4 linked regions of the Homo sapiens genome follow. The protein of the gene in region 4 interacts with the protein of the main gene of each other region in a pairwise test. Each region holds a gene or a part of one and is shown on either strand. Other genes may lie near its edges. The genes, in order: MAPK9, SPANXN3, NEK6 and PBX4.

Region 1 (7,353 bases), on a different chromosome or scaffold from region 4:
ACCAAAAATAGTTGCCCTATTGGCAAATCAATAGTCTCAAGAAGAAAAAAAATCTGGTCTCTGTTTTATCTTATGCCTCATGAAAACAACTGGTTTACTCGCTATTAACTGGTTTGTCTGGTCCTTTTCTTTATCCAGAAAATTAAGAATATTTTATCTTAGACACATTCAAGTATCCCCTCTGTTGTTTATTTACGGGACCAAATAAACAGATTTTAATCTGTGAACAAATTAAAGTCCTGGCACCCTGAAAATTAAATTGCCAGGAAAATCAAAGCTGTCAAAAGAGAAGTCTATGCAAAAATAGTATTGTTTTTAACTCTGCAGGATCCTTTTGAAGAAAAAAAAAAGTTAAATGGAGGAAAACATTAAATAGATTGGTGGTCATTCTTCCAGAACAAGTTAAAAGCCAAAAGAGAATACTCAGAGCTGAGGGACCCAGGAAAGAATCCTTATCTGGGAAGTGATCTGGGTTCGAACTCCACTCACCAGCTGCTTGCTAAGAAACAGACTACTTAGACTCCTGAGCTTCCGTTTCCACAGGGCTCCAGTTACAATCAAATGAGTATCTGGGCTGGCACCTGGGCAAACAGGGCCTGGCTCCCCTGGCCTTAGGCTACCTTTCCTGCTCTCCTCACAGCTCCTCCCTCCCACACAGCCAGTCCTGGAGGATGACGATCCTGCAACCAAGCTGAATGAATCTGTATTTGGCTTGGCTCACAGCATTAAAAAAAAATTTAATTAGCTATTGCCAACATTTAAAAATCAGAACAAATGTGGAGTGCTGCCTTCCTTTTTAGAGACAGGGTCTTGCTCTGTCACCCAGGCTGGAGCACAGTGGTGTGATCATAGCTCACTGCAGGCTCCAAATCCTGGGCTCATGGGATCCTTCCACCTCAGCCTCCCAAGCAGCTAGGACTACAGGTGGATGCCACCACACCTAGCTAATTTCTTAAAATTTTTTGTAGAGACAGATCTCGCTACGTTGCCCAGGCTGGTCTTGAACTCCTGGCCTGAAGTGATCCTCCCACATCAGCCTCCCAAAGTGTCTTGAAATTACTGGCGTGAGCCATGGCACCCAGCCAAATTCCACCTTCTTCTAGAAAACTGCTGGGTAAGGTTCCTGTTCTTTAGGGTCCCCACGACTCTGTGTCCTTACACCTGGCCCTCCAGACTGATTCTCAACTCCACAGTGGCCTACGGTCCTTCCTTGGCCCTGCTCCTTCACACCTCTGTGCCTCTCCCTGCCTAGCAAATTTCTTATCACCCTCAAGGCCCCCCAGCACCACCTGTCACCTCCTCCACATTTCCATGGCATAGCCCCTCCCCTATAGCAAGGGTTGTACAGTCCTGGAACTAAGTGTCTGCATGCCTGCCTTCTCTACTGGGCTCCTGGGCTCTCTCGGGAAAGGGACCCCGTTGCTATCTGCCTTGTGTCCGTAGGGTCTAGCAGAAAGCATGACCTAGATAATGCAGAATTCAGTAAATGTCTCTTGTATGTGTGGAAGAAAGCTACAGCTAAACTATTATAAAAATGTGAGATTTTATATCACAGCTTGTTCCAACAGTTAGCAATTAAAGGGGTCAAGGACACCAAAATGTTTCACAAAATAGAACAAGCTTCCATCTGCTTACAAGTTTCACACGCTAATCAGAAGTCACTAAATGAACAGATAAAGCAGAGACAACAGGCAGGCTGGGCCATTTCTTTGATCATTCATTCATTCATTGAGCTGATACTACTGAATACTTCCTGTGTGCTTTCTAAGCACTGGGGATAAAGCAGTGGACAAATCAGACAGCTACCTGTTTTCACAAAGTTACATCCTAGTCGGGGAGACAGAAAATAAGCAGGCAAATAAATAGAATAGTTTCAAACCAGATGAGAGCTAGGAAGGAAATTTTTTAAATAATGAAATAGCATGACTAAGGGAAGAAAGAGGGTGGTCGAGGAGGGCCTCACCCAAAACGAGACATCTGACCAGAGGAAGGAGCAGAAAGAGCTACTTGTGCCAAGATCACGGAGACAACTCCAAAGACGGGGAAACAGCAAATGCAAAGGTCCTGGGGCAAATGCGGGCTGGCATGTTCAAGGCGGGCGAGATGAGTGGGACGGGGCAGCAGTCTTCTGGGGGAGGGGCGCGGTGGTAAGGGATTCGGGCTGGGTCCCCTCTGGCACTGCTGGACACCGAGTGTGCAATGACAAGGCAAGAGAGGAGTGCGCGGGGAGGCGGGAGGCTGGGCGGGTGGGGAGGGGGTTCCTACACCACTCACACCAGCACGGGCCAGCACCCTGCCCAGTCTTCCACAGATGCACACCGGGGTCCTGCCCAGGCGTCTGCATACATTCACACAGCCTGACAACAACCCTGTCCAGAAGAGACATTTCCCCACCTTCCCGAAGGCAAAACCGCGGCAGAGCGAGGGTCAGTGCCTTGGCCAAGGTCGCGGGGACGCGACCCCGGGCCCCTGGGCACCCGGCGCAGGAGTGCAGCTGTCTGCCCCACCTCCGGGAGGGATGGCGCCCGCAGACCCCACGGGCAGGTCGGCCGGGCCAGGCCGGTGAGCAGGCCCGCAGCCCGGGGCTGCTGACAGCCGGGCGGAAGGGGGCGCCTGCGGCATCCCCCAGCACAGGGGCGACGGCTGCGGCTGCCAGGGCCCCGCAGCCCCCGGCCCGCCCCGAAGCCCCCGGCCGCGCGGTTCCCTCACCGCCCCTCCCCGCGGGCCCGGCCCGAGCAGCCGCCGCCAGGCCTAGCCCGCCCGCCGGGCTCACCTCGCCTCCCCGCCGCCGCGCCACGGGGAGAGGGCGGGCGGGCGGACTGGCGGCGCTGCGTGCTAGTCACTCCTGGCTCCGCGGCCCCGGCTCCGCCGCCGGCCCGCCCCGCTCCGCTCCGCCCCGCCGCCGCCGCCGCCGCCGCCGCCGCAGTGGGTGTGAGGGGCGCCGGGGCGCTGCGACCCTTCCGGTCCCGCTCCCTTCTCCGCCGCTGCCGCCGCCGCGGCGCCCGGTCTGACAGACCCTCGCGCCGACCAATCAGCGCGCGGAGAGCGGAGCAGGCGCGGCCAATGGCGCCTGGGGGGCGGGCCGATGGAGGGTGGCGCGGGCGGGGTCGGGGGCCGGGTCGGGCGCCCGAGGTCCTGGGCCGGGGTTCCGCGGGTTCTTCGCCCCCGGGCCTTTCAGTGGCGCGGGCCGAGTGGCCATGGCGCTCGGGTGCGCGCAGTGCACGCGGTGAGCTGGAGACGCAGGCATTGCGCGGCCCACCGGCTGAGCCCGCTCTCCCTGCGAGGGGGGCGCAGCTCGGTGGAGAGGGTGGCCCGGAGGACCGGGAACCGGGCTGGAGGCGCGCGGGGCTCACACCGCGGGGTCCGCGGGGAGCCGGGCCTCGGGCTGCAGGTGCAGGCTTGTGGCGGTGAGGCGACTGGAGCGGCACGGGAGCCCGCCCGTTTCGGGGAGAGCCCGGGGCGATCGCGGGGGGAGGCCGGCCTGGCGTCCGGGAGCCCGGCGTGCTAGGGCCCGGTAGGCGGGGCGGGCCTCGCACTCGGTTGCTCGCTGCGGCGCCGGAGGAACGGGTCTATGGGGGTGTGGGTGAGGCCAGAAGCCGGGTCGAAGAGGGGGAGGGGGTGCGAAGAGATGGCGGTGTGTAGACAGGTGACCCGGTGGGTCGGTGACGCAGGAGGAGACTGCGCTTGGTGGCGGGATCACTTAGTTGACAACATCTAAAAATTAGGAGGTGCGGCAGGGCGCGGTGGCTCACGCCTGTAATCCTAGAACTTTGGGAGGTCGTGGCGGGTGGACTACCTGAGGTGAGGAGTTCGAGACCAGCCTGGCTAACCTGGTGAAACCCCGTCTCTATTAAAAATACGAAGCAATGAGCTGGGCGTGGTGGCGGGCGCCTGTAATCCCAGCTACTCGGGAGGCTGAGGCAGGAGAATCACTTAAACCTGGGAGGCGGAGGTTGCAGTGAGCCGGGATTGCGCCATTGCACTCCAGCCTGGGTGACAGAGTGAGACTCTCTCAAAAAAAAAAAAAAAAAAAAAAAAAAAAAAAAAAAAAAAAAGGGAGGTGCTCAGTCAAGCCTCTGAGAGGAGTGGGGGGCGGGGCGAGGAGTCTCTTGCTCAGAGCCCCCTAGGGACTGGGACCCGTTGACTCTGAGCTGCTTTTGAGGCTGGATCAGGTACCAGCGGCCTGGGGGTCGTACAGGATGGGAGAGGCCGGGGCTTGGGATGTTGCCAGATCTACGTTGAAAAGTGAAGCAGGAAGAGAGGCACTGAGGCTGGGCACATGGGGAAAACCGTGGAGAGCCGGCCTTTGGGGACTAGAAGAGTGGGAACAATGGTTGACAAATGGTGAGTGTGGTGTAGAACAGCAGTAACACAATACCAGGATCCACAGAGTGGCCAGGGCCAGAGTGGGGAGAAGGAACAGGACTCTGCAGATGGGGAGGGTAAGGGGCTGGGTGGCGTGAAGGGTGGTTGCAGAATTTGGGGAGGGCAGCTAGCCTGTGACCCAGGTTCCAAGGGCACTGAGGTCTGGGCCAGGCCGCTTGGAGGCACCAGAGCCTCAGAGGAGGGGTGGGGTAGAGGAACGGATCCAGCATGGTGTCCCCCTTGGCCACCAGAGGGAGTTTTCTAAATTTGAGCATGGCTCATCGCTGCTTGAAATTCTACGTCACAGTGTGGCCTGCATTGAGGAGGGCCCACACCTGTCGCTACCTCAGACTCACCTGCCACCTGCCTCAAGTGCATGAGAGAGAACAGGAAACCAGAAATTGTCAGGATCGAGGATTATGGGAAAAGAGTAAAAGCCTAGCTGTCAGATCTGAGGTTCCACCAAGGAGCACTGATGGGTGCTTCTCATTAGGAAGGCGGTGCGGTGGCTCACACCTGTAATCCCAGTACTTTGGGACGCCGAGGTGAGTGGATCACCTGAGGCCAGGAGTTCGAGACCAGCCTGGCCAACATGGTGAAACGTCATCTCTATTAGAAATACAAACATTAGCTGGGCGTGGTGATGGGTGCTTGTAATTCCAGCTATTCAGGAAACCAAGGCAGGAGAATAACTTGAATCCACGAGGCAGAGGTTGCAGTGAGCCGAGATTGCTCCACTGCACTCCAGCCTGGGCAACAGAGCAAAAACTGCATCTCAAAAAAATAAAAACAAAAAAACAGAGGGGACACCAGTTCCCAGCACTCCAGGCCTAACTTCATAGCACTCACATCATGTCAAGTGAGTAACCAAAAATCAGTGTACATATGTACACAGCTATACATATCTCACACTAAGTTTTCTGTAAGAGTTCTTTTTATTGCAGAGACACTGCTTTTTTTCTGGTTTATGAAATACAGTGAACATTTATGGACACAAAGCTGAGGTGACAGGGTGGGGAGGGGGGCCTTGGAACAGCACCAAGAATCCTGGTTGAACCCTCCAAGTGAAAAGATCCTGCCACGACATACGTGAACCAGGTGTGACACGTGAGCACGTCTCACCTGATCCGGCCTATGGTGGGGAGAAGCAATTGAGGAAGGCCTTCTGGGCAGGAGGAAGTTGTTGCTGAGGCTGCCGAGCAGGATGTGTTGGGCCTGTGACTTAGGCAGAAAGGGCGCTCAGGCCCACATGCTCAGATGTGAGGACCTGCTTGCTGTGTTCAGGGAGCCACAAGTCACCTGGTCTTAGGGAAAGGTGAGGGGACTGGAGAGTTCTGAGGACCTTGAGGTAGATTGGCACTGCCAGGCATGTAGGCTGGCTTTAGCTCACTGATACGCCTTGTTCAGCCCAGAGAGGTTTTCTTTTTTTAATTGATTAGTTGATTTAAGAAACATTTAGATTTGGGATGAGCTGTTTTGGATGTTTATCCTCAATGAAACTCATGTTCAAACTTAATCTCCAATGTGGCAGTACTGAGAGGTGGGGCCTCTAAGCGTGGTTGGGATTAACCTGTCGATGGATTCATGGATTAAAGGGTTATCACCGGAGTGGGACTGGTGACTTCATTAGAAGAGGAAGGAAGACCTGAGCTGGCCTGTGAATATGCTCCGCCCCCTGGCCATGTGACACCTGCGCCACCCTCAGGACTCTGCAGAGTCCCCAGCAGCAAGAAGGCCCTCACCAGGTGCAGCCCCTCAACCTTGGACTTCTCAGCCCCCAGGGCTGTAACAAATAAATTCTTTTTTAAAGTAAATTACCCAGTTTCAGGTATTCTGTTATAAGCAACAGAATAAGAAACAGACTAAGACAAGAGCACAGCGGGGTGGAGGAGCTAGGGGTGCCTGGGGCATTGGGGACCTGTCCGGAGGCCAGCTGTGTATGCAGCCACAGTGCCAACGGGTTTCTGTGATCCTGATATCCCCCACCCTTGACTGGCCTGGATTCCAATCCGACTCTTGTCAGCTGTGCTCCTCTGGGCAAGGGATTCACTTCTGTCTGCCTTGGTTCTGTAGGAAGTGGCATGGAGAAGGACAGAAGCAGGAAGAGCTGGGTGCGGCCCATGCAGCAGGGATGGTGTAGGTCCTTATGCTGACTGCCTCTGTCCCCTCAACACTTTGCCTGCCCTCCCCCCATTGCACTAACCCACATCTTCCCTTCTCCCCTACAAGGACCCAGAGATGTGCTAGAGGGTGTAAGTCGGGGCTGTCCCAGCTGTGTGTTGTAGAAAACTAAACTGCACTTAAACCAATGGGGACGTTTACTGGGAGGTGCCTGTAACATCATACCCAGGGGAGGTAGGGGCAGAGCTGGTCTGGAAACTCTAGGGCCATGGAGGCCACTGCAGGCCCAAATGGAGTTTGAAAACCCACAACAATGGACTCTGATGGTCCCCCAGACAGGGCTTCCATTCTGGAACTAGTCAGCCATGCTGGGCAGACAGGCTCATGTGAGGACATGGCAGGGAAGGGCAGAATTGGGAAAGGCAGAAGTCTGGAAGTTTCTTCCATGGTGATGATTAGAATGAGGGCATCTGAGCTGGGGCGCAGCTGAGGGTGTGGCACTGTATGGAAACAGGGTTATTTGGGGGCTGTATAACTGAATGCTGAACCCAGTGGCCCTTAGCCCTCCTCCTCCGGGAATCCCCCAGAGCACCAGCAGCTGGGACTGTCCTCAGGCAGGGAGCCAGCAAGCTGTTCTCCAGAAGTCTGACCAGCCCTGAAGGGAAGACCTGAGGTATGAACATTATGACACCCCCACCCCCACCAGATTTCCCAGCAGTGAATCCTGCATCAACCAGCCCTACCATGCCTTAGACCTTCCAGTCAGCCCCCCTTGAATCTGAACAGACAGCTCCATGTCATATGGCTAAGAAAAGTAAGACAAAAAACTGCATCTTGAAAGAAACAGACTCTGTGGAGAAGGAAAAT
Region 2 (7,500 bases), on a different chromosome or scaffold from region 4:
TTTGCACTCAAACTTCCCCTCAGGAAGCTATCAAACCACCTCCTTTCCAACACACAAGGTCTGAGGACACTTACCAGGGCAGGACTAGCAAATCAACGTCACTCACATGTCCCCCAGAAAGTGATTCCTATACCTTCTGACAATAGTAGATACATTCTCTGGATGGATAAAAGCTTTTCCCACCACCACCGAAAAGGCACAGACCATTGCTTCTATTCTCTTCACCCATATTATCCACCGGTTTAAACTCCCCTCTTGCATCCAGTCAGACAACGGGCCAATTTGTTTCACAGTTTAACCAACAGCTGGTAAAGGCTGTAAACATTAAATTGGCTTTGCATATTCCTTACCACCCCGAATCTTCAGGGAAACTTTTTTAGAAAACAGCAACTGACCAATCTTCCCTAAAGGTTAAAATGGCCTGGACTTCACTTCTCCCATTGTTCCTCATGCATTTATGAGTCATTTCCCAAAAGCTCCTCAGCCTAAGCCCATTTAAACTCATGTACAAATGCCCTTTTATCCTCCAGAATCTCCCTGTATTTTCCCCCCATTCTATATGGAATACTTGGCCGGCGTTACACCTCACCCAACATCTAATAAGACAGTACACAAATGCTTACTTGACCCAGCCTAAAAGTCCATCCTCAAAATACTCCGCCCTGTCCCTACAACCAGGGGACTGGGTCTGAATCACAGACTCCTCCTCCTCCCCTTTCCAACCTAAGCGGAAATGTTCCCACCAGGTTATCCTAACTACTCCGACTGGGGCAAAGCTAACATCCTTTCCACACTGAATACACCATTCCAAACTAAAAAGAGCACCAGACCCACATCTAGAAATTTCCTCACCCCCATATTATTCTCCTTCCCCGACAGGACCAACCTCACTGTACTTAACAAGAATTCCAGAAGTTGCCAATCCAGAACACCTTAGTCCATAACACTCTCTGTCTCCAATTTCCAATCTTTTATCTCCTACTTTATTTCAGATCTTTCCTGGCTACCCTTCCCCATGTCCCTGAATAGTCCATGCCAATTCGTCATACTAATCCAGGAGGTATGACTGCAGGGCACCTTCCAAAATTTCACTCCTACTCAAATCTCCTCTTTCTTCTTTTGTCCTCTTTGTCTGTGGGATACTCTAAGTCCCCACCCCCAACCTCTGACAGTTGAGCCCCCTTCATCAGCCTCACACCTTTCCTCTTAAATCAGTCACACTCCCCTCTTCCTTCCAACTGTTAAACTTGTTTGTCCACACAAATCCAGCAATTCACAGCCCTTCCTGTCAACCTGGCCACATGAACTCGGTCCAAAATAAGCCTGCATCTCACCTACTTGACCAGTTCATTCCCAAACCTGTTTATAATCTTGATCAGCTAAACTCTTTTTCCCCCAATCCATCAAATCCACCCACACCATCACATACAGGGCTGTCACCCTCCCTCGCCTCATAGCCTCTTAACTGAATATGTTACAAACGGATTCCATAAAACACCTTTTAGAAACCCCTCCCCTCTTGGCTGGAGCCGCTCTTCATATTATCCAACTCAAGGGCGCTCGCTGGAAAACATGCACAAACAATTCCCTCAAGTGCAACCTATATCCTTCTGCCCTGTCAGGGCTACAATGGCTATTAGTTACAAAAACCCATTTCCCCCTCTCTTTCCAAAACCAAACAGCCTCCATCTCCTCCACCACCAACATTTCCTATCAGGCCGTCAGAGGGGCTACCCTTGCTGGCAGCTATTCAACTTGGAAAAATATAAAAGTTAAAACAAAGAATTTCTGCAGAATTCAACACCCACCTTCTCATGGCTTGCCACCATAACCTACAACTTTTGTCTGTCCACCCCCAGTGTCTTCTTCTTTTGTGCCACAAACTCTTATCTCTGCCTACTGGCCAAATGGTCAGGAACATACACCCTGGTGTTTCAGCCTAAACATTAACATTTTGCCTAACAAGCAGACCATCCAGGTTCCTTTAGTAGCTTCTGTCTCATCTTCCTCCACACACACTAAGCAGGCTCTACATCTCATTCTAGTGTTAGCAGAAGTAAACATCTCTGCTGCAGTCAGCACTGAGATAGCAGGGGGCCCCTTTCTTAGGACCCTTAATTTTCCTCCTCCTAATACTACAATTGGCCCATGTATATTTACCTTCATATCCCGCTTTATCTCCCGAAGGCTAAACTCCCCTGTCCAGGCGGCCACCCAGCAACACATTGATACCATCCTTCTCCTCTGCCAAGTCCAGTACCAGTGCCTCCAGGAAAACAACTCTGAAGTCCAACACCCACTGCTTCAAAACCCAAACCCTGATTACAGCTCCCCTATTCGGCAGGAAGCAGCCAGATAATCAACAATGCCCCTCTTCCTTTTATACTAAAGTAGAAGGCAAGAATGTGAGTCCAAACCACCATTTAGTAAGCACCCTGCTATTTTTCAGACCTTGGTCAAAGTGAAACATTCCACGGGGGTTCGGGCCATGAGAAAAATCTTGCCTAATCGTCGTAACACAAGACGGACAAAGGTCCAACTAAAGAAACTTTCCTATCATATCTTGCTGGGCAAAGTTTCAAGATACACCACAATGACATCCCACTGGAAAAAGGACCAAACAGCCTGATCATAAAAACATCTTATCAATATCCTGCCGGGCAGCAAGCCATACTGCCCAGGCCCCTCCCACCCCTACCTACAAGCACCCCAGCCTGTAAGCAGCGGTGGGCTCTGGCATTAAGCGGGTCCCCCACTTCCACAGGTGTCTGCAGTATTCCTGTGTTGCTGTTTGAGCCACCCCCTCTCTGTGTGTCTTTCTTTCACCCTCACCTTCCCTTCAAAACCTGACAATCTTACCTCATCATTTTTTTTGTTATTGGATTCACAGGGGCTCTTCGTCTTCTCCCCATTGGTGCTGGAAGTTGGCTGTTCCATGATTCTGGTTGGTTGTAGAATGTCTATAGTAGGCTCCTGTAGACTGCAGACTTCCACAGCTATGTTGAAGCTTCCCAGTGGGATGTCCCAGAGCTCTTGCCCTCCCTATATATACCCTCCTGGTGACAAGGCAAAGCCACACCCTTGAGCTTTGTTTGATCATACAGGCAGTGTCCCAGCCAATGGCGGTCCTAAGGTGGCTTTGACATCACAAAGCCCCACTGCTGACCACTCCTTGGGCTTGTGGGGGAGGGGTGACAGGGATGTAGAGGAAACCAAATGCGGTTGTTGTTTCAGCATCCCCTGAAGATGCATCCCAAACCGATCTGCCGCCGCTCCTCATTTCTCCATGTTTAATGTTCATGGTTCACATGGAAGTCAGAGGATGATTCCTTCAAGCCCTTCCCCACAGCCATTCCTATGAAGTGATTCATTCTTTTGTCTTCCAGCCCTCACCATGACTTAGTATTTTAGATGTCTCACCTCAAATCCCCCAAGCTAGTGTGGCTACATTTAATTATTAGTTATTAATTACTAGTTACATTTAATAATTAATAATTAATTATCCCATTTCCCTCCTACAGTTCCTTCATATGCACCTTGAAGACCATTTACTTTTAGGCTACTGCCAGGCAAATTTCAACCCATGTTATTTTACTCAATGTCCGTGTAGTTCTTTTAAATTTCCTATTTCCAATCTGCAATAATGGCCTTCAGTCTGTCAAAATTTTAGTGAATAAACATTCTTTACTGTGTATCCTAGTCTTGTTTCAAATGAGGGGTGTATTTTCATAGTAAATGTAGTCTCCCAACATGAATTCTGCCAGTATGTGGGTGGGGGAAGGAGTGGATATTCAAGTGCTGGAAGTTGTTCTCAGTGTTTACATGCAGGATGCTACAATCTAAGACCCACATGTGCACCAGTATGGGCATAGTTATACTTTGTACTGAAGATTGTGTCCAGTGCAAAAAGAAAAATGCATTCAGTTTGGAAGGGGAGAAGTAAAAGTGTCTTTTGTCAAAGACTACATGAAAGTATATGTAGAAAAGTCAATCTATAAAAAAGCTTCTACAATAATTGAGGTTAGCAAGATTGCAGAGTAAGAGATCAATACACAAATCAATTGTATGTTTATATATTAGAAGAGGCAGTGTTTCAGCTAATGGTAGTCCTAGGGTGGACTGGAAGTTAATTTCAACAAATGAAAGTTGAAACTAAGAACAGTGCAATTTAAAATATCACTAAAAATATTAAAGTCTTAGGGATAAATCTGACCAAAAATGTAAATGACTTGTACACTTAAAACTACAAAAAAATTGCAATGATAAGTTAATGACATCAAAAATCCAGATGTATACTTTGATTTTCGGTTGGAAGATTCAATATTGTAAAGTGGCAGTTATTCCAAATTCATCTGTAAGTTCAACTCAATTCTAATCAAAATTCTAAAAAGGATTTTTAATAGAAATTGACAAGATAATTATAATAGTCATATGGAAATGTAAAGTGCCTAGAACAGCCAAAAGAAAAGTGTTGAATCTTAAAAAGCTCTGGATTGCATCACTGTCAATGTTCTAGTTTTGATAGTGTAATGTGGTAGTGTACTGAAGATTTTACCATTGGGAGAGGCTGGTTGAAGGGTACATAAGGCCTCCATGTACATATCTTTGAAACTTCTTGTGAACTTATAATTGTTTCAAAATAAAAAGCTAAAAATGTTTTAAAAGAGAATAAGAGAGAGGGCCAAAGATAAAGAAGGCATGGCCCTAGATTCCTCCCATAGGTTGACACTTGTCCATTCTCTATAGGAAGTCACAAAACGCAATAACGGAAAAAAAAAATTTAAAAATAGAACAAAAGTGAAGTAGACCCTGGATTTTTGTTCCGGTGTTCGTCAAGCTCACATATCTTTACTTCATACACCATAAAATCAATAAAAGCCTAGCAAAATACGCTGCTGACCCTCCAGAAACAAATAATTTATAGCACTCCCATGACTGCCATCTAAACACTAACAAACCAAGCGAACCTTGTATACATTTTTTTTCCTTAGTGAATTCCAGATGTTGTCTACAGATTAACAACTCCATTTAGTAAATTCTTACAAACTAACATCTAAGTATTTATTTCTTTTGGACTTTTGCCTGCAATTAACAGTGAGAACATCAAACTGTCATGTCATAAAAAACAAAACAAAACAAAACAAGCAAGAACCAACAGCCATGCCGCATCAAATAGGGTAGGTCAAAAATTGATTAAAATTGCTGAAAATAACAGCTTTCAATTACCTTATTACCTTTTATGATTGTTTTCTAAATTTGTTTACAAAAAATATTTTGATGGGTATATCACTATCCAGTGAAAATTCATCAAAATGTTAGGAACACATTCAGTGGCATATTTCTATTGAAAGATTACAACTTACTTTATAAAATAACTCCTATTGAAAAACTTAGTGATTATGTTATATTTTCCACTAAAATGAATAATAAAGAATTAAAGGTCATCAGTGTACAATGAGTTCATTGTATTGATTTTTTTTAAAATTTCTGATGTGTTCAGTTTTTAAGAATATTCTTCTTTTTCATATCAGGTTGAGGAACTACTCAAAGTGACTCTCCCATATCATGCTGTAAGTCAGAGATGGACCCAGGGTCAGAACCAGGGACTCCTTTAAACCTTTTCACCTCTTGTTTTTGAGCCTTTGTACAAGTGATATTACAGACTGACATTAGTTTAGTTATAATAATAACCCTCAACTGCATTCTTAATGATTTTTGTTACAATTTTTATCTAAGGTAGGTTTAAACACCACACAAAGTACCAGACACAGGATAGGATCTGCTTGGGATGTGCAGCATTCCATGGCCACAAAGAGCAAGGTGTTAGAAGCCAACCGTATATTTCCCTCTGGAGCACAGACAGTTGAAAAGCAATCATTGAGAAAGAGTTGAGTATGAAAGAGAAATACATCCTACTACTGGCTTTACGTGTGACTGAATGAGTGGCTTTGAAAAATACCAGCACGATTACCTCCACTGCAACCACCACTACCTCTACACTAATATTAATACTACTACTAGCCATAGATTCTATACACCAAGAACCTATTATATGTCAGGCTCTGCTCTAAGCACATAGTATCTAGGTCAAACAGATGATACATCCAAAATGGGATATTTGACAAATATTTGTCTGCAAAGGGACCATCTATAAACAGGTAGATGCAGGGGGAACGTCAGAGATTGTGCTAGTAGCAGCTGCCATAACTCCGAACCCAAAGGAATGAGAGCAGGGAGGAAGTGGTTACTAGAATCTGGAAAAATCAATAATCATGAGAAAATTGCTGTCTTCAGAAGTACAGTGACCTCCACCAAGAGACTCATCCAGCTCAAGGTGACTCACAGGGATGGAGCCAGGGGAATAGGTCCACAGCCCTCACTCTCCTTCCTTTCTCCCTCCCACCTCCAACTCTCCTTGGGGCTTTTCATTAGCCAAACCCAGTGGACACCAGAGTCCAGGAGCCCATTGAGAGAATCCTTCCTAAATAGCCTCTCAGGACAGCACAGGTGAAGAATGGTGGTGAGTGGATCTGGAAAGGCAGAGGGAAGATGTTCAGCAGAGATGCAATACTCACAGCAGTCCCAGGAGGTAGATATCATCATGCGGGTCTGATTTACTGATAAGGAAATTGAGGCTCAGAGAAGCTCAATAACACAGTAATTGTGAAACAGTGTTCAAACCAAGTTCAAGCTGCCCTACATCTCATATTCTTTCTGGTACTCTGGGTAAACTGCGTACCTTCTGTAGGCTTCAGATCCCTCAGCTGTAGCATGAGTCAATTGGAACAACCAATGTCATTTTTTAAAAATATGCTATGAGGCCGGGCACAGTGGCTCACAGCTGTAATCCCAGCACTTTGGGAAGCTGAGGCGAGCAGATTGCCTGAGCTTAGGAGTTCGAGACCAGCCTGGGCAATATGGCAAAACCCCATCTCTACTAAAAATTCCAAAAATTAGACAAGCATGGTGGCACATCCCTAGAGTCCCAGCTACTCAGGAAACTGAAGAACGAGAATTGCTTGAACCCAGGAGGTGGGGGTTGCAGTGAGCTGAGATGGGGCCAATGCACTCCAGCCTGGGTGGCAGTGAGACCCTGTCTCAAAAAATAAATAAATAAAATAAGATAATAAATAAAAAATATGCTATGATTCTATAATCCTCACTTTTTAAAAATTTTATTATTATTATACTTTAAGTTTTAGGGTACATGTGCACAACGTGCAGGTTTGTTACATATGTATACATGTGCCATGTTGGTGTGCTGCACCCATTAACTCGTCATTTAGTATTAGGTATATCTCCTAATGCTATCCCTCCCGTCTCCCCCGACCCCACAACAGCCCCCGGTGTGTGATGTTCTCCTTCCTGTGTCCATGTGTTCTCATTGTTCAATTCCCACCTATGAGTGAGAACATGCGGTGTTTCGTTTTTTGTCCTTGTGATAGTTTGCTGAGAATGATGCTTTCCAGTTTCATCCATGTCCCTACAAAGGACATGAAG
Region 3 (7,244 bases), on a different chromosome or scaffold from region 4:
CACAGTGCCTGCTACCTTCCTAGTACAGTGGGGAGACCATGGGCTCTGCTCAGACAAGCCTGGGTTCAAATCCAGCTCTGCTGCGTATTAGCACATGGTCTTTGGCGCATTCTCTCATCTCTCTGTGCCCCAGTTTCCTCATCTGTAAATGGGCATCGTGACAGCTTCCATCTTAGTGTTGGTGAGTGGACTGGGTAAAATACAGCACCAGACCTAGCACACAGTATATCCTCAGTAAATGGGGACATGGCCGGGCATGGTGGCTCATGCCTGTAATTCCAGCACTTTGGGAGGCCAAGGCGGGCGGATCACCTGAGGTCAGGAGTTCGAGACCAGCCTGGCTGGCCAACACAGTGAAACCCCATCTCTACTAAAAATACAAAAATTATCTGGGCGTGGTGGCACCTGCCTATAATCCCAGCTACTCAGGAGGAGGCTGAGGCAGGAGGCTCACTTGAACCCAGGAGGCAGAGGGTGCAGGGAGCTGAGATTGCGCCACTGTACTCCAGCCTGGGCAACAGAGTGAGACTCTGTCTCAAAAATAAATAAATAAATAAATAAAAATAAATGGGGACCATCTATCGTGGTGCTACTTTAATGAAATTATGCAAGTCATGTCTCTGAACCTCAGTTTTATCATTTGTGAAATGGGGATAATAAACCCTATCTACGATGAGCAGAAAATGAACGGATGTGTGCTAAAGTACTCAGCACTAGGTCTGTGCACCTTAGCCAGTCAAATACCATATCCCAAGTGCAATGGAAAGAGGAAAGGCTGTGAGGCTGGGCAGGTGACTTCGGATTCTGCCCCCACCTCCTCTCAGCTGCCCCAGGACACAGGCTTGACCCCCGTGTGCCTCAGTTTCCTTGTGCACAAAACCAAAAGCATTTTCTGTCACAGAAGACCAACGGGAGATTCACACCCCCTAGAACGGCTCCCAGCACACAGCCCCTTCTGCTCCGCAAAAGGGAACTTCCTCCCCATTTCCCTCCTCTGCCCTTGTTCAAACCCACCAGAAATGCCACCAGTTAAAGCCAGGCGCTCCATTTCTGGAAACCCAAACAGCTCTAAATCCAGACCAACCTGGGTCTAAGGCCTTCAGTCTGAGACTTTATTTTGTGGAGATACAAACTACTTTTTAGTCATTTCCGAAGCAGACGGGACAGCAGAGGCTGACAAACCACAGGGACCATTTTAAATCCTGGGCCTTTTCTTCTGGGAAGTTAGGCAAGAACCTTCCCAAATGTTTGCCCGTCAGGCTCTCTGCCAGGGAGTGACTCATTCCACGGCTCCCCACAGGCATATTTTATTTGGGGGTGGGGGACGCAGCGAGGGCTTGGCCTTGATGGGGGAAGGAGAGGGGGCATTTCCAGCAAACCCAGAAGGTGTTTTCTTTTTTTCATTTTCAGGAGAAAAAAGAAAAAGAATGTGGGTCTTTTTTGCTTCCTTCCAGGTTTTGTTTGCTAAAAGAAGACGTCCAAAGTTCATTCGGTAAGCTCAAACTCGCTGAGTCCAAACTCGCTGAGTCCGGGGCAGGCGCTTCCAGACGGCTCTGCGTCCCTTTCAATGAAATTCTTCTTCCATTAACGACAGGGTTTTTAAACGTGCCTCCAAGACCTGCCTGCACGTACTGTACACCAAACTAAGGCGACATTTTCCCCCAAAAAAGGCAAGCTGAATTTGGAAAAGTCAGACCAACTAGGGAGCTCTGGAATTTCTAAAGTTTGCCTTAAAGCAATTAAGACTTTCAGCTGCAAAGATTTTCAACAGTTAGAGAGCACGCACACACACAAAAGCCTGTCAGTCAAAACTGCAAGGACAGACCTCGGAAGCTGGTGTCCCAAGCCCGCTGTGATCAATTTGTTACTGTCCTGGGATTCACACTTGGAGCCTAGGAGAGGTATAAATAAATCAAAAGATCCGTCTACTTAGCAGGGCAGGCAGAGAGGCCCCCACATACACAGGCAAGTCTAGGGTCAGCCCCCCAGGCCTGGCTGGAGAGAGACAAGAACAAAGACAGGAGAGCCTGGAGGATATTTAGGAAAACACACGTCCTCGGGTGCCCGGCCGAGGGGCCCACCACAGCCTCCGCTCGCCCAGCCTGTGTATGCAGAGAGGGTCCTGCCAGTGGCCCTGCCGCAGCCTGGCTCTAAGACCTTTGCCTCTGTCAGGCCCAGCCAGGCTCTGAGTCTGCCCTCCTGGCCCCTGGTTCACCGGATCAGGCCCAGCCCCGACCCCCAGCCCATGCCAGGCCGCTTCTCTCTCCACGGGCTCCCTGGCTCGGGGGCCATCACTGTGCAAAGGCCTGGTGGGCGCAAAGGGGGCCGGCCCCTCAACCTCAGTAATAAACACGCTCGCACGGCCCTGCACACTCGTTATACTCACACCCACACAGGCATACTTTCGCCCTTCTAGGCTCACGCATGTGCTTGCACACAAATCACTTTGGAATGCACACACGTGCACACACACACTCCCTGAGACCCGCACGTACTCCCTGCGGCGCCCGGCACACTCCTCCGCCCGTCGTCCCCACTCGGGAAGTGGGTAGCGGGGAGCCATGCCCGCGTCCCCGCACGCACTCACCCCAACAACGCCACCAGACGCTCCGGGGTGCACACGCACACCCGCCGGGGACGCGCACACCCCGGGACACGCGGACACGCCGCCCCCGCCCGCCCGGCCGCCGACACGCTCAGCCCCGCGCGGCCACACTCGCGCCCGCCTCCCGCTCTCCCCCGCGGAGCCGTGGGCGCGCGCCCGCCCTCGGCCCGGCTGGGGGTGACGGCCCCGCCGCCCGGCCCCCGCCCTTCTCCGGGCCGCGGGGCCCCACCGGCCCGGCCCCAGCCCCAGGCGACTCACCGGCGCGCGGGCGGGCTCGGCTGCCGCTGGGGGACCGGTGCGCTGGCCCGCGGGCGGCTGGAGCGGTGCGTCCCACACGAGTTTGCGGCGCAGCGGCCGCACGCCCGTCAGCTCGGTTCCGCCGCCGCCGCCACCGCCTGCGCGGGCCCGCGCGCCCGCGCGCCCGCCCCTCCCCGCCGCGGGGCCGCGCCGCCCCCAGCGCTCGTGCGCGCTGCCGCCACGCAAGCTTGAGGGGCGGGGGGCGCCCCGGCGGCGTCCTTCCTGGGCCTGGACCCCTCGACTCCGCCGAGTTCTGCGGCCGATCCGCTCGGCCGAGGAACCCCTTCCCCATTTCAGAGATGGGAAGACTGAGGCCCAGACTCACAGGGCGCAGGCCGGCGTCTCCCCATCTTCTCCGGCTCTAGACTTATGATGAGGGTCTGCAGTCAGCCAACCCTTGGACTCCTGTGCGTCTTCGGATTCCCCATCGCCTAGCATTGCTCCTACCACAGCCCTAGTCATACTGAAATTGGCACAGTAACAAGCACTTATTGTGCACCAGCTGAATGCAGGCACTGAAGTAGGCTCCAAGAGTATTCCGATGAGGGGAAGGCCCTGCCCCCTGCCCTCAAAGTGCCAGCGACTCTTCATCTGGAGCTCCCACTTCCTGTGGCCCCCGGGGGACCAGCAAGAGCCAATGTGCAGAGGTTTCTGGAAGTAGTAAAAGTCCCCACTAAAGAATGTTGAACGCCCCCTCTAGAAGTCAGAGCCTCCCTGAGACCCAAGCAGCTCAGTTCTCACTTCACCTCCTCCCCGCACCGAGAGCGGCCGCTCCTGGCTGGGCTGTTTCCACCCCTGCTGCCTCCCCTCCACATTCAAAACTGTGCTGCACCCCAGGAGGGCTGGAGCCAGGGACACTGACTGCCTGCTTGGGCGCAGCACTGTACTGGGCACAGGGTGAATGCCCGTCTGGCTTCTGTTTGCCAAATGAGTGGAAGTGCTTCAACTGGCCGTGATCTGTAATAATGACACCAACGGAGCGTCCACCACGTGTGCCAACGTTACCCTTGTGCCCATTTTACAGATGGGCTTTGAGGCTTAGAAATGAAATTTCAGGCTGGGTGCGGTGGCTCACACCTGTAATCCCAGTACTATGGGAGGCTGAGGTGGGAGGATGCCTTGAGGCTGGGAGTTTGAGGCCAGCCTGGGCAATATAGCAAAACCCCATGTCTACAGAAAAATGTAAGAATTAGCTGGGTGTGGTAGTGCCTGCCTGCAGTCCCAGCTACTCGGGACGCTGAGGCGGGAGGGTCTCTTGAGCATAGGAGTTAGCAGCTGCAGTGAGCTATGATCGCACCACTGCACTCCAACCTGGACAACAACAATAAAAAGCAAATTCTTTTGTTCAAAGTCACCCAGATGGTAAGTGGTTGAGCTGGAAAGTGCACGGCAGATTGTCTAATTCCAGTGCCTGTGTGGCCAATCACTAGGCAGCCCTGCCTCAGGAACAGCATAGCCCTGGGCTTCTGGAACAAGAGGGCAGACGAGGCAGCAGCTGGCCCACAGGAGCGGGCCTGGTCCCAGCTCTTGTGGATGAAAATGCAGACATCACAAACCAATGGGGAGGAAATGGATTGTTCTGCAAATTGTTTAGCCGTTTAGCTGGAGATCTGTTTACAGCCTTGCCTCCCATGATATACACCACAATAAATGTCAGACAGATTGAAAAGTTAAATAGAAGAAATAAACACTGCAACAAATAATAGAAAGAAATCGAAGTTCTGAGACAGCGTATTGCAGTGTTACTAGAGGATTTGTGATACTGGCCATATTCATGCAGCAAACATTAGTTCAGTCATTGGTTCACCCGACACATCTATGAGCACCTTCCATGGGCCAGGTACTTTTCTAGGCACTGGGATAAAGGAGTGAACAAAATATGGCCCTTTCTTGGGGCTTCAGTCAAGGGGGAGGGATGGGGTGGGAGGAAGACACTGAATATCTGCCATTTCAAGGATAAGAAGTTTGGGCCGGGCGCGGTGGCTCACGCCTGTAATCCCAGCACTTTGGGAGGCCGACGCAGGCGGATCACAAGGTCAGGAGATCGAGACCATCCTGGATAACACGGTGAAACCCTGTCTCTACTAAAAATACAAAAAAATAGCCGGGCATGGTGGCAGGCGCCTGTAGTCCCAGCTACTTGGGAGGCTGAGGCAGGAGAATGGCGTGAACCCGGGAGGCGAAGTTTGCAGTGAGCCGAGATCGCGCCACTACACTCCAGCCTCAGTGACAGAGCGAGACTCTGTCTCCAAAAAAAAAAAAAAAAGAAGTTTGGTGGAGAAATAACTCGGAAGGGTAGGAGGACCCAGGGGTGCTTTTTTATAGGGGGTGCTGGAAGAAGGCCTTTCTGATGAGGTGACATCTGAGCAGAGGCCTGAATGAGGGAGTGGGAGAAGTCAGTAGGGGCCCACTGTGTGGAGGGCAGGTCCCATGTTCTGGCAGCTATTCAGTTAAGCTACAGAGCAAGAACCAGAAACTCCCTTTTGAAGGAAACTTTGAGAGCCGCACCAGGCCACTGGGAGGAAAGGACTGCCCCCACCCCCAACACACAATATCTATGTAAGACTTTACTGCTTGCAAAGCCCTTCCCCAGCTTCACAGAACCCGTATGACAGATACTTGTGATGTCCTCATTTTCCAGTTAGGAAACCGAGGCTCAGAGAGGTCAAGCAATCTGTCCCAGGTCACACAGCCAATGATAATCAACAGAGGTAGGTCTGGCTGCAGGCAGGCTGAGTGTTAGGGGAATAAAGAAGCCTTGTCCTGGGATACAGGAGTGAACAAAAATCTAGCTCTGACTCTCTTGGGGCTTCAGCCAAGGTGGGAGAGTGGGATGGGAGGAAGACACTGTGAATGTCTGGCATTTCAAAGATAAGAAGTTTGGTGGAGACCAGGCGCAGTGGCTCACCCTGTAATCCCAGCACTTTGGGAGGCCGAGGTGGTGGATCACCTGAGGTCAGGACTTTAAGACCAGCCTGGCCAACATGGCGAAACCCCATCTCTACTAAAAATAAAAAAATTAGCTGGGCATGGTGGCACGTGCCTATAATCCCAGCTGCTCGGGAGGCTGAGGCTGGAGAATTGCTTGACCCCAGGAGGCTGAGGTTGCAGCGAACTGAGATCATGTCACTGCATTCCAGCCTGGACAACAGAGCAAGACTCTGTTTCAAAAAAAAAAAAAAAAAGTTTGATGGAGAAATAAAGCAGGGATAGGTAGGAGGACCCAGGAGTGCTTTTGCATTGGGGGTCCCCCTCCCCCTTGGATGGGAGCAGGGTAGGGGAGGCCCATGCACCCCATTTTCCTGGCCTTCCTCCTCCTCCATCCCTCATGGCCACTTCTTTCCCTCTGTCCTGGGCCCTGTGCAGATGGTCCCAGCTCCTGGTGACACTATGGGGCAAATATCAGGGTTAGCCTGCTCAGAGATTCTTGAATTCCCTGCAGTACTCTGATACACTGACGAGGGCACAGTAGAGTGATAAGGTACAATGCAAGCTGAATCCCACTCAACTTTTGTTTTTAACTCAAAGGAGTTTTTAGGGAGTCCCAAAATGAGTCATCGTGAAGCAGTGCTTTGCAAAATGACACCCAGAATTAGGATGAGCGTCTCCCTGCACACGTTGCCTCACACTTCTGCCCACCGAGGCGTTGTTCAACTGGTCTGGGAGAAAGTCTGTCTCCGTTCACCCCCAAAGAGTTTCAGGATTCAGTATGTGTTGTTTCATTATTTCTCTGCACGAAGGGAAGAGAAACTACCGCTTGCCGGGCACCTTCTCTGCATCTGGCTCTGTAAGAGACAGTTAATTCTTATAGCATCCCTTGAGATAGGGGTCATGATTTATGTTTTATAGATGAAGAAACTGAGGCTCAGAAAATAGCCAGGATTTGAATCCAGGTTAACTCAAGTCCTTTATTGTTGTTAGTATTGGGGGAGGGGGTAATGGGGGAGAGAGGAGAGGCAAGAAGAACTTAGAATCAGGCCATGTTCCTTTGAAGTTCCTTTGTTACAAAATATCTTCTTGCCATCTTCCCGGTAATGGGATTTTTTGTAGGGGGTGAGTTCCAATTTTCCCAGAAGGATTCATTCGCTCTTGTCATCCGGGTGCGATTATTGACAGCAACCCCTTTCCCTCTGCAAGTGTCTTGCTTTGGATGATCAACTTTAGGGTCACCTTGGGTGTCTGCAAAGGCCACTGCGTTGGGGGATTCATTTTTTACATTATACAAAATGGGGGTGTCTTGTCTGCTGGGCTCTTCGCCACATACTGATGTCTGGGTGTCCCACCAAGAACTTCCAGGAGAGTTTAAGCAGTTAAGTCACATTTTTAGGAGCAGCAAACCCTG
Region 4 (7,022 bases):
CATGCTTGCACCAAGCCTACAATGCCGCATCCACTTTCTTTGCCTAGGCAAAGCCTCAAGTCCAGATCTTGGCCATCTCCTCAAGGCTCCTTGTCCCCCGCCTGACTTCACCTAGACTCCAGAGTCATGCACTCTGATTGCCCATGCTCTACAAGCTCTAGTCTTGCTGAAGGGCTAACTCCTCATTGCCCTCTCTGGTCCCCGTGTCACCGCACTCTCCAATGTCTGCCTCTCCAAATAATGAATCTCCTTTCAGAACTCACTGCTGCATTCCCAAGCCCAGCACCAGACCTGGCACAAAATACATGTTTATTGAGTAGATGACATTTAATTTGCGAGAATGTACTTTTAAAAGTGTCCTGTAAAGCCCGAGCCTGACTGTCTGATCTCCCACGGCACCCAATCAGCTGGGCTCCTCTGAGCAGGAAGCGATGTCAGATTTAAGTGAGTTTTGTAGGATCCCTGGGAAAAGCAGAGACAGGTGGCAGGCAGTACAGCCTCAGAGTTCAATAGAGCATGCCCAAATCTCCATCCAACTACCCTCCAGTTATCTGGCCACTTGATTCCTTATCTAGAAACACAGTGAAGAGCCAGGCGCAGTAGCTCACACCTGTAATCCCAGCACTTTGGGAGGCTGAGGCGGGTGGATCACCTGAGGTCAGGAGTTGGAGACCAGCCTGACCAACATGGAGAAACCCCGTCTCTACTAAAAATACAAAATTAGCCAGGCGTGGTGGTGCATGCCTGTAATCCCAGCTACTTGGGAGGCTGAGGCAGGAGAATCGCTTGAACCCGGGAGGCGGAAGTTGTGGTGAGCCGAAATCGCGCCATTGCACTCCAGCCTGGGCAACAAGAGCAAAAATCCATATGAAAAAAAAAAAAAAAAAAGAGCCAGGCGCAGTGATTCACGCCTGTAATCCCAGCACTTTGGCAGGCCGAGGAGGGCAGATCACGAGCTCAGGAGATCGAGACCATCCTGGCTCACACGGTGAAACCCGGTCTCTACTAAAAATACAAAAAAATTAGCCGGGCGTGGTGGCGGGTGCCTGTATTCCCAGCTACTCGGGAGGCTGAGGCAGGAGAATGGCGTGAACCCGGGGGGCGGAGCTTGCAGTGAGCCGAGATTGCGCCACCACACTCCAGCCTGGGCGACACAGCGAGACTCCGTCTCAAAAAAACTAAAGAAAGAAAGAAAAACAAACAGTGAAAAACCACCCACTTCCTAGGGTTCTGGGGAGGGGTAAATGAGGGAAATCCTTATTGTCATCATCATCAACCACTGTGTTCTGATAGAGGCACTCGGTAGCTGTCATTTAAATGAGTGAGTGGTACTTGCTCCTTTGTGAAATTCTACACATGGCTTTACTTTTCATTAATAAAGCTATTTCAAAGGGGATTTTGCCAAAAGACTTTTAGATAGCTTCAGGGAATTGTTTTAAAACTAACACAATTTGCCAGGCACGGTGGCTCACGTCTGTAATCCCACCACTTTGGGAGGCTGAGACGGGCGGATCACCTGAGGTTGGGAGTTCGAGACCAGCCTGAACAACATGGAGAAACCTCGTCTCTACTGAAAATACAAAATTAGCTGGGTGTGGTGGCACGTGCCTGGAATCCCAGCTACTCGGAAGGCTGAGGCAGGAGAATTGTTTGAACCCGGGAGGTGGAGGTTGCGGTGAGCAGAGATTGTGCCATTGCACTCCAGCCTGGGTAACAAGAGTGAAACTCCATCTCGAAAACAATAAAAAATTTAAAAAACTTACAAAAAAATAAAAACAACACAATTCAAGCTGGGCAAAGTGGCTCACACCTGTAATCTCAGCACTTTGGGGAATCCGAGGCGGGATAATCATTTGAGGTCAGGAGTTCAAGACCAGCCTGCCCAACATGGTGAAACCTCGTTTCAACTAAAAATATGAAAATTAGCCGGGTGTGGTGGCTGGCGCATGCATGTAATCCTAGCTAATCAGGAGGCTGAGGCATGAGAATCACTTGAACTTGGGAGGTGGAGGTTGCAGTGAGCCGAGATTACGCCACTGCACTCCAGCCTGGGTGATAGAGCAAGACTCTGTGTCAAACAACAAAAACCAACACAATTCAACTCTTAGGAAAAGTACACCAAAGACAGCAAGACTCCTCTGGCACTAGACCAAGTCAAGCTAAGCCTGCAAGCAAGCTAAGAAGAAAGACTACAAGGCACGAAGTCAACTGGCATCTAATTAATCTCTTTAGGGATACTGAAAAAGAAAATTTTAAATATGAAATCCTACTTCCCAGGTTTGGACTGATAGATCCTCTCATGCTAATGCTATCTGGCTCTGGGAAATTCCACATCATAAATTCCCCCTAGAACCCTTGCATTCTTTGAATGGGTGTGCGGAAGGCTGAATGCTCACTGACATGCTTTATAACTATGTATGAATATAAGGTCAGAACATACATAAGTATACATACTTTATAAGTATATGTGTTCTGACCTTATATTCACTATTGCAAAAGTACCAAGCCTAGGGGAACACATTTCAGGTATCAGTTCACACCTTGCCTCTTCAGTAAGTTTAAAGGATAGTCAAAATCACTTCATTATCTCCCCTTCATAATAGGAATTTAATCCATATCTAGGCAAAGTCAATCTGCAGAAATATTGGAGGGACTAAGAAAGTTATGCAAATCTCTACTAGTTGAGGTCATAATAGTAAAAATCAAATTAAAAAGAGAAGGCCGGGCATGGTGGCTCACACCTGTAATCCCAGCACTTTGGGAGGCCGAGGCGGGCAGATCATGAGGTCAGGAGTTCAAGACCAGCCTGGCCAAGATGGTGAAACCCCGTCTCTACTAAAAATACAAAAAATAGCCTGGTGCAATGGCAGGTGCCTGTAATCCCAGCTACTTGGGAGGCTGAGGCAGGAGAATCACTTGAACCCAGGGGGCAGAGGTTGCAGTGAGCCGAGATCATGCCACTGCATTCCAGCCTGGGTGACAGGGTGAGATTCTGTCTCAAAAAAAAAAAAAAAAAAAGAAAGAAAAGTTCAGAGATATGTTTTCTTCCTAAGAAAACCTATGCAGGCATTGCTGGGTTGCCTAAAACCAACTTCCAAATACATTTTTGGTTTTAGGTATGCCATCTCACACACCACACTGCTTGCTCCTAAAACATTATAACAGTGAGCATTTAGAATGGGTGGGATGGCTCATGACTGTAGTCCCAGCATTTTGGGAGGCTGAGGCAGGAGGACAGCTTGAGCCCAGGAGTTCAAAACCAGCCTGGGCAACATAGTGAGACTCTGTATCTACAAAAAAATGTTAAGGCCAGGCACAGTGGCTCATGCCTGTAATCCCTGCACTTTGGGAGGCTGAGGCAGGCAGATCACCTGAAGCCAGGAGTTCTAGACCAGCTTGGCCAACATGGTGAAACTGTGTCTCTACTAAAAATACAAAAATTAAGCCGGGCATGGTGGTGCATACCTGTACACACCTGTAATCCCAACTACTCGGGAGGCTGAGGCAGAATTGCTTGAACCCATGAGACGAGGGTTGCAGTGAACTGAGATCGCACCACTGTATCCCAGCGAGGGCAACAGAGTGAGACTCTGTCTCAAGAAAAAAACAAAACAAAACAAAAAACCCAGGTTTGAAGAGAGAGCTATATTTTCCTTCTGAAAACAAACTTACGGCAACAAAACATGTTCAGAGGGCCTCACGACTGAGATGAAAAATTCCTTCTTGCTAAACAGTTGAGTTCAACTGACTGCTGGGGTGATAAAAGGGGTGACTGGCACATTGAGAGTGGGCAGGATCAGAAAGATTTTCAAAAGCCTCACAGGATCAGTTGATCAGAAGAGACAATCTGCTTCCCAGCCCAGGTTGGTAATCTACCAGGCTGCAGGGTTTACTGTGAGGAGCTGTATTTCCTCCAGAGGGGTGGAAATAGCCCATTTGAGGATGGATGATTTTTGTCTGGACTTGAGTGAACTTTAGGGCTTTGAGTTCATCTAAAGGCTAGGTCCAAAGAAATGAGGGAGATTTGAAGCTTCAAAGTCTCGAAATAAAAGCCCCGGGGGTCATCCCAATTCAGAAAGAGGCCAGAAACCAGGAACCAGCTACCTAACACCTGTGTTATCAAGCATGAATAACGCCCCCCACCACACCATTTAATTTCTTTTTTTTTTTTCTCTGTCATCCAGGCTGGAGTGCAGTGGCACGATCTCGGCTCACTGCAACCTCCGTCTCCAGGGTTCAATCGGTTCTCCTGCCTCAGCCTCCTCAGTAGCTGACACATACTACAGGTGGGCATCATCATGCCCAGCTAATTTTTGTATTTTTAGTAGAGGTGGGGTTTCTCCACGTTGCACAGGCTGGTCTCGAAGTCCTGAGCTCAGGTGATCCTCCTGCCTCGGCCTCCCAAAGTGCTGGGATTACAGGCGTGAGCCACTGCACCCAGCCTAATTTCTTAGCCTTAAAACAAAAAGAGCTATCTTTGAAAATGGTAAAGAAGTAACTGGCTGGCAGGGCGTGGTGGTTTATGCCTGTAATCCCAGCACTTTGGGAGGCCGAGGTGGGAGGATCACCTGAGGTCAGGAGTTTGAGAGCAGCCTGGCCAACATGGCAAAACCCCGTCTCTACTAAAAAAATACCAAAATTAGCCGGGCGTGGTGGCAGGCGCCTGTAATCTTAGCTACTCGGGAGGCTGAGGCAGGAGAATCTCTTGAACCCAGGAGGCAGAAGTTGCAGTGAGCCAAGAACACGCCAGAGCGAGACTCTGTCTCAAAAAAAAAAAAAAAAAAAAAAAAAAAAGTAACTGGCTGCATTCCATTCTAAATCTAAAGCCTGTCTAGGGAAACTAGAATCTCAGGAGATTGCTGCAAGGAAAATGCAGCAGCCCTGGGGCTGTGCTGGGCCTGAGGAAGGCCACATCTGAGCAGAGCTCACCCCTTAAGCAGCAATATCCCGGTCTGGAAAGTACAAAAGTAGCTTCCAGGACACACCCAAAGCTCTGCCTCTGCGGTGACATTCCTGGGTGTGTCAAAACCATCTTCCCCCTTTCCCAACTCCTACTAATCCCTCTAGAATCTCCTCAGTGTCATGAAACTACTGAATGCAAGGTGCTAGGCATTGATCCTGGCTCTGGGAACACAAAGTATAATAAAGCCACTGCTCTCCGACTAGCCTAACAGACATCACGGAAGGCACCCTCTCCTGGCACAGCTCTTCTGTGCTAGGAATTACCTCTACACAGCACATTCCTGTTATAACAATTATTTACAAGTTGGTCTCCCACACACCCTACTTCTCAGTGGGCTCCAAGAAGGCAGAGAACATCTTAGCCATCTTGGTTTCTCTAGCACCTGGTACAATGCTCCAAAAAGAATAAAAACACTGGTTCACGTCTGTCATCCCAGCACTCTGGGAGGCCAAGATGGGTGAATCACTTGAGCTCAGGAGTTCAAGACCAGCCTGGACAACATGGTGAAACCCCATCTCCACAAAAAATACAAAAATTAGCCAGCCATTCATTGGTGGTTTGAGGCTGTAGTCCCAGCTACTTGGGAGACTGAGGCTGGAGAATCACTTGAACCTGGGAAGCAGAGGTTGTAGTGAGTTGAGATCATACCACAGCACTCCAGCCTGGGTGACAGAATAAGACCCTGTCTCAAAAACAAACAAACAAACATGGCCCGGCGCAGTGGCTCACGCCTGTAATCCCAACACTTTGAGAGGCCAAGGCGGGTAGATCATCTGAGGTCGGGAGTTTGAGACCAGCCTGGCCAACATGGTGAAACCCCATCTCTATTAAAAATACAAAAAACTAGCCAGGTGTGGTGGTGCACACCTGTAATCCCAGCTACTTGGGAAACTGAGATGGGAGAATCACTTGAACCCGGGAGGCGGAGGTTGCTCACTAGCCGAGATCGCGCCACTGCACTCCAGCCTGATCGCGCCACTGCACTCCAGCCTGGACAACAGAGTATGAGACTCCGTCTCAAAAAAACCCAAACCAAACCAAAAAACAGCCAAACAAACAAACAAAAACAAACAAACAAACAAAAAACCACAATGAAAACAGTTGGAGGAGCCAGGCTCAGTGGCTCATGTTTGAAATCCTCGACCTTTGGAAGGCTGAGGCGGGAGGATTTCTTAACTCAGGAGTTTGAGACCAGCCTGGCCAACATAGGGAGACCTAAAAAAATAGAAAGATTAGTCCAGGTGTGGTGGCTCAGGGCTGTAATCCCAGCACTTTGGGAGGCCGAGGTGGGTGGATCATTTGAGGTCAGGAGTTCAACACCAGCCTAGCCAATACGGTGAAACCCTGTCTCTACTAAAAATACAAAAAAAAATTAGCCAGGCGGTAGTGGCACACGCCTGTAATCCCAGCTACTCAGGAGGCTGAGGCAGGAGAATTGCTTGAGCCTGGGAGGCAGAGGTTGCAGTGAGCTGAGACTGCACCACTGCACTCCAGTCTGGGTGACAGAGTGAGACCCTGTCTCCAAAAAAAAAAAAAAAAAAAAAAAAAAGAAAGATTAGCCAGGCGTGGTGGCACAGGCCTGTGGTCCTAGCTACTCAAGAAGCTGAGGTGTGAAGATTGCTTGGGCCCAGAAGGTTGAGGCTGCAGTGAGTCATGATGACACTACTGCACTCTAGCCTGGGTGACAGAGCGCGGCCTTATATAAAAAAAAAAAAGCCAAAGAAATAGTTGTATGGTGACAAGGACTCTAATTTCTCAAACAGAGCATCTGAAACTACAAAAAGTGTCAACATTCCCTGAGAAGCAAAGGAAAGAAAGTTTGAAGAACAAATTTACTTTCTCTCCCCAAACCATGAACTTGAGAGCAGGAAGAACTTGAGAGCTATGCCAGAACCCAGTTCAGTACCCAGATATTGTAAAGGTCCGATAAATATCGGCCAAATTTGTTAAAAATTCATTGAAGAACAGGCCAGGCACAGTAGTTCACGCCTGTAATCCCAGCACTTTGGGAGGCTGAGGTAGGCAGATCACCTAAGGTCAGGAATTTGTGACCAGCCTG

The links.
Region 1: the proteins of PBX4 (region 4) and MAPK9 interact in binary tests that used the Homo sapiens proteins (3 or more experiments, as listed by UniProt).
Region 2: the proteins of PBX4 (region 4) and SPANXN3 interact in binary tests that used the Homo sapiens proteins (3 or more experiments, as listed by UniProt).
Region 3: the proteins of PBX4 (region 4) and NEK6 interact in binary tests that used the Homo sapiens proteins (3 or more experiments, as listed by UniProt).

Annotation. Positions count from the first base shown.
Region 1 is NC_000005.10:180,289,075-180,296,427, forward strand, and holds the start of MAPK9 (mitogen-activated protein kinase 9), read right to left. Parts: upstream 3,010-7,353; 5' UTR 2,774-3,009; intron 2,202-2,773; exon of another isoform or gene 1,964-2,201; intron 1-1,963. UniProt on the Homo sapiens protein: Serine/threonine-protein kinase involved in various processes such as cell proliferation, differentiation, migration, transformation and programmed cell death.
Region 2 is NC_000023.11:143,514,455-143,521,954, forward strand, and holds the start of SPANXN3 (sperm protein associated with the nucleus on the X chromosome N3), read right to left. Parts: upstream 3,022-7,500; 5' UTR 2,938-3,021; coding exon 2,860-2,937; intron 2,441-2,859; exon of another isoform or gene 2,236-2,440; coding exon of another isoform or gene 2,161-2,235; intron 1-2,160.
Region 3 is NC_000009.12:124,253,705-124,260,948, reverse strand, and holds the start of NEK6 (serine/threonine-protein kinase Nek6), read right to left. Parts: upstream 3,001-7,244; 5' UTR 2,864-3,000; intron 2,709-2,863; exon of another isoform or gene 2,588-2,708; intron 1,740-2,587; exon of another isoform or gene 1,455-1,739; intron 1-1,454. UniProt on the Homo sapiens protein: Protein kinase which plays an important role in mitotic cell cycle progression. Required for chromosome segregation at metaphase-anaphase transition, robust mitotic spindle formation and cytokinesis.
Region 4 is NC_000019.10:19,608,680-19,615,701, forward strand, and holds part of PBX4 (pre-B-cell leukemia transcription factor 4), read right to left. Parts: intron 1-7,022.